Linked DNA regions of Homo sapiens: region 2 is linked to region 1. The links come from fine-mapping of genetic effects on gene expression. A gene starts in region 1. The other region holds a variant in brackets. All regions are shown on one strand. Distances are from middle to middle. Region 1 holds the start of SCUBE1 (signal peptide, CUB domain and EGF like domain containing 1). Region 2 overlaps SCUBE1 (signal peptide, CUB domain and EGF like domain containing 1).

What was found. PIP is the estimated chance that this variant, and not a neighbour inherited with it, causes the effect. A credible set is the group of variants that fine-mapping cannot tell apart.
Region 2: its variant is the best candidate, but not a certain one, in a credible set for the expression of SCUBE1 in prefrontal cortex (ROSMAP, PIP 0.61).

Annotation. Positions count from the first base shown.
Region 1 is chr22:43,341,699-43,344,595 of GRCh38, forward strand. It overlaps SCUBE1 (signal peptide, CUB domain and EGF like domain containing 1), which reads right to left and starts at 1,674. Exons shown (of 22, transcript NM_173050.5): 1 at 1,476-1,674. The coding sequence starts at 1,563.
Region 2 is chr22:43,297,213-43,300,109 of GRCh38, forward strand. The region is part of intron 3 of SCUBE1 (signal peptide, CUB domain and EGF like domain containing 1); the gene reads right to left. Among named protein-coding and RNA genes, the nearest start is that of SCUBE1-AS1, 23 kb to the left of the region's middle. The variant C/CA (reference allele first, on the strand shown) is at 1,839.

The sequences.
Region 1 (2,897 bases):
CTGCCATGCTCCCGCTCCTGTCTGGGCTGGAGACTCCCCTGCAGGGCGACCCAGCCCTCCTAGCACAGGCTGCTCCCTTTGACTCTGGTTTGCTTATGCTGGGGACATGCTGCTGGGGTTTCACAGTCACAGGGCTTCCACGGAGAGGGTCGTGGAGGAGACAGAGTCAGATACAGAGAGACACGAGGAGGGACACAGGTGGGGATAGGCACGCCCAGGAACAGTCACTCAGAGGTGAGGGACCCCAAAGCTTGGGAGAGACACCCACAGACACAAGGGGGATGATGGGGCAGCAGGGCTGGGCTTCCAGGAGGGGTGTTGCTGTGGAAGAGTCTCACAGGCCCAGCATCCTCACTCGGGGCACGCGGGACCACCAGGAATAGACCCTACGCCACCCATACCAGACCTCAGGAAGCCGGGAAGGACGTGCAGGACCCTCCCCCTGCCTCCCCCTCCAAGCAGAGCACCGGAGGAAGCGCCTCTGATGACGAGGAGGGGAGAATGTGACTCCAGCTTTTCGGGAAGCCCCTGAAGACAGAGAGCAGGAGGGGACCGGGTGGGAGGGTGGGGGGGTCCCCGTGAAACCCACGGGCCTGGGCCTGTGGCCTCCGGGTCTCCCCCTCCCCTTCCTGGGTCTGCTCCACCGACGTCCCGCGTCCGGACTCTCCTCCCTGTGTCTGTCCTCCGGATCCTCTGCCTTCCTTCCCTCTGTCTTTCCTCCCCGTCCTGTCAGACGGTCCCGGTCCCTCGTCTGCGGCTTTCCAGGTATCTCTGTCCCTCTCTCTTTCCCGGTCTCCCTCTCACCGCCCCCCCCAACCCCGTTTTTCTGCGGCGTCCATCTGTCCCCCGTCTCCTCCTCTCTCTCTCCCTTATCATCGGTGGGACCATCCCTCTTGATTCCCCCTGATCCACCGGCCTCCTCCTCCTTCCCCGGGCGGTGCGGGCCTCCTCTCTACCCTTCCGCATCTGTCTTTTCTCCGGGCTTCCTTTTGTCTGCTCCCTCGGCGCCGGCTCTTCTGTCCGTCTGTCCCGCACCTCCCGCCCCGTCCCGGTCTCTCGGTCCGTCCCTTTCCCCGTCCACCTCCTGGCGTGTCCCCCTCCGCCCGCCCCGCCCCGCGCCCCCTCTCCCAGGAGGAGCGCCCCTCTGCGCTCGGGGTCCCGCCCCGCCCAGGTCCGCACGCGGGGTCCCCGGGAACCGCCGCCTTTCTTCCTCGCTCCCGCGCTCGCGCTTCCCCTCCCGGGGCCCCGGCCCACCCACCCCTGGTGCGGCCCCGCCGGACTCAGGAGCCCCGGCCGCCCGGGCTGCGGGGAGGGGGCGCCCCGGGCCGGCCCTAGAAGTTACTTTGCAAAGAGGCAGGGGGCGCGGGGCCGCGCGGGGCGAGCTCGGGATCCGCGGGGAAGAAGCCCTCCGGGACCGCGCCTCGGCCGCCCGAGCCCCCCGCGCCCGCCGCCCCCCACCTCGGTCGGGGGCTTACCTGGGAGCCCGCTGCCCCCGGCCAGCCGCCCGCGTGTGCCCAGGGCCAGCAGCACGCACAAGTGCCAGCGCACGGCCGCCGCGCCCATGCTCAATGCGGGCCCCGCTGGGCGTGCGGGCGTGCGGGGCGCGGGGACCCGACCGACCGGCCGCTCCCGCAGGCGCTGCTCGCTGCTCGCCGCTCCGCCACCGCTCGGGCTCCCGAGCCGCCCAGCCAGCCCGGCTGATGAGCTGACAGCGCGCGCTCATTGGCCCGTGGCGTCGGAGGGGCGGGGCGTCGCCCAGGGCCGGCCAATGGGCGCCGGCCTCCGGCCCTCCGAGGAAGAGGGGGGCTCGGGCGTCGTCGGGGGGACCCTTCCCCTGGGGCGGGCGGCAGGTGGGGGGTGTGGGCCTGGCCGGCCGGCTCGCTAGGCGCGGGGTCTAGGCCAGGCTGGGGCTGCTTGGAGGCTGCGCCCTCCCCTGCCCGCGGCGCCCCGGCCCCCGCCGTCGAGAGTGGACGCCCCTCTGGGGTAACCCCTCCCGGCCCAGAGGCAGCCTCGGGGGCGGGGATCCTGCGAACCGGGGATCCCGTGAGGTCGCCCGCCATCCGTGGGCAGTGAAACGCGCCAGCGCGCAGAGCAGACTCGCCTGCGCTGCCGTTTGCTGGACGTTTCTTGAGCACCTACTGGGGACCGAGTGCGGGCGAGGCAGCAGCGAAGGAACCGGGAGGGGAAACCTCGTGAAGATCACTTGAAAATTGACGTTCAAAACAAACGAACTTTTTAGCACTCGTCAAAGGACAGTGGCCCGTCAGTGTGCTTGTCACGGGGCGGCCGCAGGACCTGCGTCTGGAACCGGGCGGGCGCCCGGGACGGACAATGCCGCTTGGCGGTCGGTCCCGCGGGAGGCCCCCGCACGGGGCTAACCTCGGCCGGCGAAGTTCGCTGCCCGGAATGCGAGGCCGAGGCCTCCCCCTGTGACAGACCGGGCGGGGCCAGGAGGAGGGGCAGGGCGGGCATCCCGGTCCGAAGACCCAGGAACTGCTCTGGCCTGGCCTGGGGTCTACACCTGACGCCTGGCGAGGGTTGGCTTCGGGTCTGGTCCCACCGGGCCTGGGAGGGACGGGCGGCTGGAAATAAATGGCCCCTCTCAGTTCCAGGCAGGACGCTTTAAGGGACGAAAGTTCAGCAAACCCCAAGGCCCATCTCCTTGACAACCACCAATAAGAGCTCCTTTTTTCTTCTCCTGCTCTCCAGGCCCAACTCAAAGACAACTCTTTTCTCTTTTTGTCCACTCTGCCTGCACCAGTTTGAGCCCCTCCACACCAGCTCCCTTTCCTGCCCCCAACACACACACGCACACACACACACACACACACACACACACACACACACACAGTCACACATGCAGACACATGCTCTCACGTGCAATCACTCAGACACAG
Region 2 (2,897 bases), 44 kb before region 1:
ACAGCCCTGGCTTGGACCTCAGCTTCCTCTTTGGGGTAGGCTGCACACTTCTCCTGGGTCTCAGCCTCCAGCCTCTCCCTCCCAATCCCTTCTCCATGGGCAGTGGCTGCTGTGATGAGTCTGGCTGGAACAGGACATGGCACCTTGGTCCCACAGGGTCTCTGGGGTCAGGTCCCACCTCCTCACTGTGCAGTACCCAGCATGAGCACAGCTCTGGAGGCCGGGGTGGCGGCGGACGGCCCTCAGCTGTGACTCTTGCCCATCTCCACTCGGTCCTCACAGGCGCAGGCCACCTCCACCTGCTGCCAGCCACTGAAGGGTGATGTGTGGGAGGGGACCCCTGTGCTGTGATTGACATGGTTGTTTTCCAGCAAGAAGAATTTCCAGAGCTGACATCAGCAGGCCATAGGTTGACCCGCTTCCGAAAGGCCTCTGCAGGCAGGACCAGTTTCCCCGGGAGGTGTGCTTCTTGGCCCAAGATGCTGATGTTTGTTTTTATTAATAGCTGGCTGTTTGTTCTACTTTGGACCAAGAGTCCAGGTTCACAGTTATTTATAACAACTAAAAATTACTTCTGGATCCAGCTCTGGCTGCTTTGTGTTTCCCGCAAATATTTCCCGATTTGAAACAGAGACTCCGTGTTCTGCTTGGACCCACCCATGTTTTCATGGCTGTCAAGAGCCTACTGTGTGTCAGGCCCTCCACTGGCTCCGGTGTCCCAGCTCCCACGGAAGGTCTAGAAACAGAGGCAGAGGTGCCCAGCCCATCTTAGGAAGCGAACTCCACCTCCAGCACGGAGAGCTCCCACCTGGTCCCAGGGGGCTGAGGCCCCCACCGCCTGCCGGCTCCTTTCAGAAGGGCGGCTTAGGCAGAAAAGCCTCTTGGCTATCTAGCGGCTCTTGCAAAATTGCATTTGATGAGTTAAGTGTAAATAAATGAGAACCAGATGGATTAGATTTTGGGTAAAATACACACGGGTCTTAGAGCTTTGGGGCCTGGGTTCTGCCAGATCCAGAACACTCTCCGAGCTGTCAAGAGCTGCTGGCACAGGCGGCAGGAGGTATGCCTGGGGTCTCCCAGGACCTGTCTGCTTCCTGGTCTGGGCATCAGCTGAGGTCTTCCCTGGGGCTCCTGATTCCCCAGCAGGTTGGCCGTGTGCAGAAGACACAGAGCCAACCTCTTGGCCTGGGCCTGAGTCCAAGCTCAGGGTGGGAGATGAGGCGCATGAATGGTAAGGTCAGCTTTCCAGACCAGCAAGCTCACTGCTCACGTCCAAACCCAGCAAGCCAGCCCAGGGAAGGCAGAGGTGGTGAAGCCTGCTGGCCGCTGGGGTCTGCTCACTCTGCTCTCCGCAACCTGAGTCCTGCCTTCCAGCCCAGCCGCTGCCCTGCCGCCCCCTGCTGTGCATCTCTAGGGAAGGACGGGAGTCTACCGCCCAGTGCAGACCGCTGGCCAGTCCTCAAAGGGGTCTGCGTGATGCTGCCCTGTGACCACTGCCCATGGGACCTGGCTGTTGCTCTACAAGTCATACCAGATGGAGTACAAGATTCAGTGAGTCGACTGGGCTTGGTGGCTCACGCCTGTAATCCCAGCACTTTGGGAGGCTGAGGCGGGCGGATCACAAGGTCAGGAGATCAAGACCATCCTGGCTAACACGGTGAAACCCTGTCTCTACTAAAAATACAAAAAATTAGCCGGGCATGGTGGCGGGTGCCTGTAGTCCCAGCTGCTTGGGAGGCTGAGGCAGGAGCATGGTGTGAACCCGGGAGGCGGAGCTTGCAGTGAGCCAGACCGCACCACTGCACTCTGGCCTGGGGCGACACAGCGAGACTCCGTCT[C/CA]AAAAAAAAAAAAAAGAAAAAAGATTCAGTGAGTCTTTGCTGGTCACTTGCTCTGTGACCTTGAGCAGGTCATTTCACCATTTTGGGCCTTGGTTTCCTTCTCTATAAAACAGGGATAAAAGTCCCTGAGGTGTTTGGGAGTCAAAGGAGGTGATGGAGGTAATGTACTCTGCACAGCGCCTGGCACACACAGACCACCACCGAGTGTGAGCAGGTGCAGCACGAAGCCGCTGCTCATGGCCTCAGGGAATCACGGGTACGAACGTACTCCAGTGACAGCAAAGTCCCTTCCAAAATGCAAAAGCAACAACAAACCACATCAGAGGGGAGCACTCAGACCCGCCTCAGCCTTCTGGTCTCCAAGTGAAGCCGCTCGGCTCCTGACACTGTTCCCTCCTGAATAAGCTTCTGGCACACTCACCACCCAGGTCGCCCTTCTCTGGGGATCCCAGCTTACTGGGGCACTCACAATTGGCCCAGAAGTGGACAGAGCTGTGCACATGGTCTGCTTGGAGGATGTGGGTGGGACTTTTGATGCTATGTTCGTGTGACCTCTGCTATTTCTCCAATCCCGTTTCTGGTTGAGATAGAACTCATGGAGCACACAATTCACAATCTTTAAGCCGACATCTTAGTGGTTTTTAGTATATTCACCGTGTTGCACGACCATCACTACTAATTCCAGAATATTTCCATCATGCCAGAAAGAGGACCTGTGCCCGTTTTCGGTTAGTCCCAATTCCTACCCCTTCGCCCCTGGAAACCACATGTCTACTTTCCATCTATGGTTTGCCCATTCTGGACATTTCATGTAAAGAGAGTCATGCGATATTTGTCTTTGTGTGTCTGGCTTCCTTCACTTAGCATGTTTTCAAGCTGCATCCATGTCGTAGCGTGACTCAGCACTTCATTCCCTTTTACGGCTGAACAGTATTCTATTGCATGGACAGACCACATTTCATGTATCTCTTCGTGAGCTGATGGACATCCGGGTTGTGCTGGCTTTGTGGCTGTTATGAACGGTGCTGCTGAACACTGTGTGTAAGTTTTCGTGGGGGT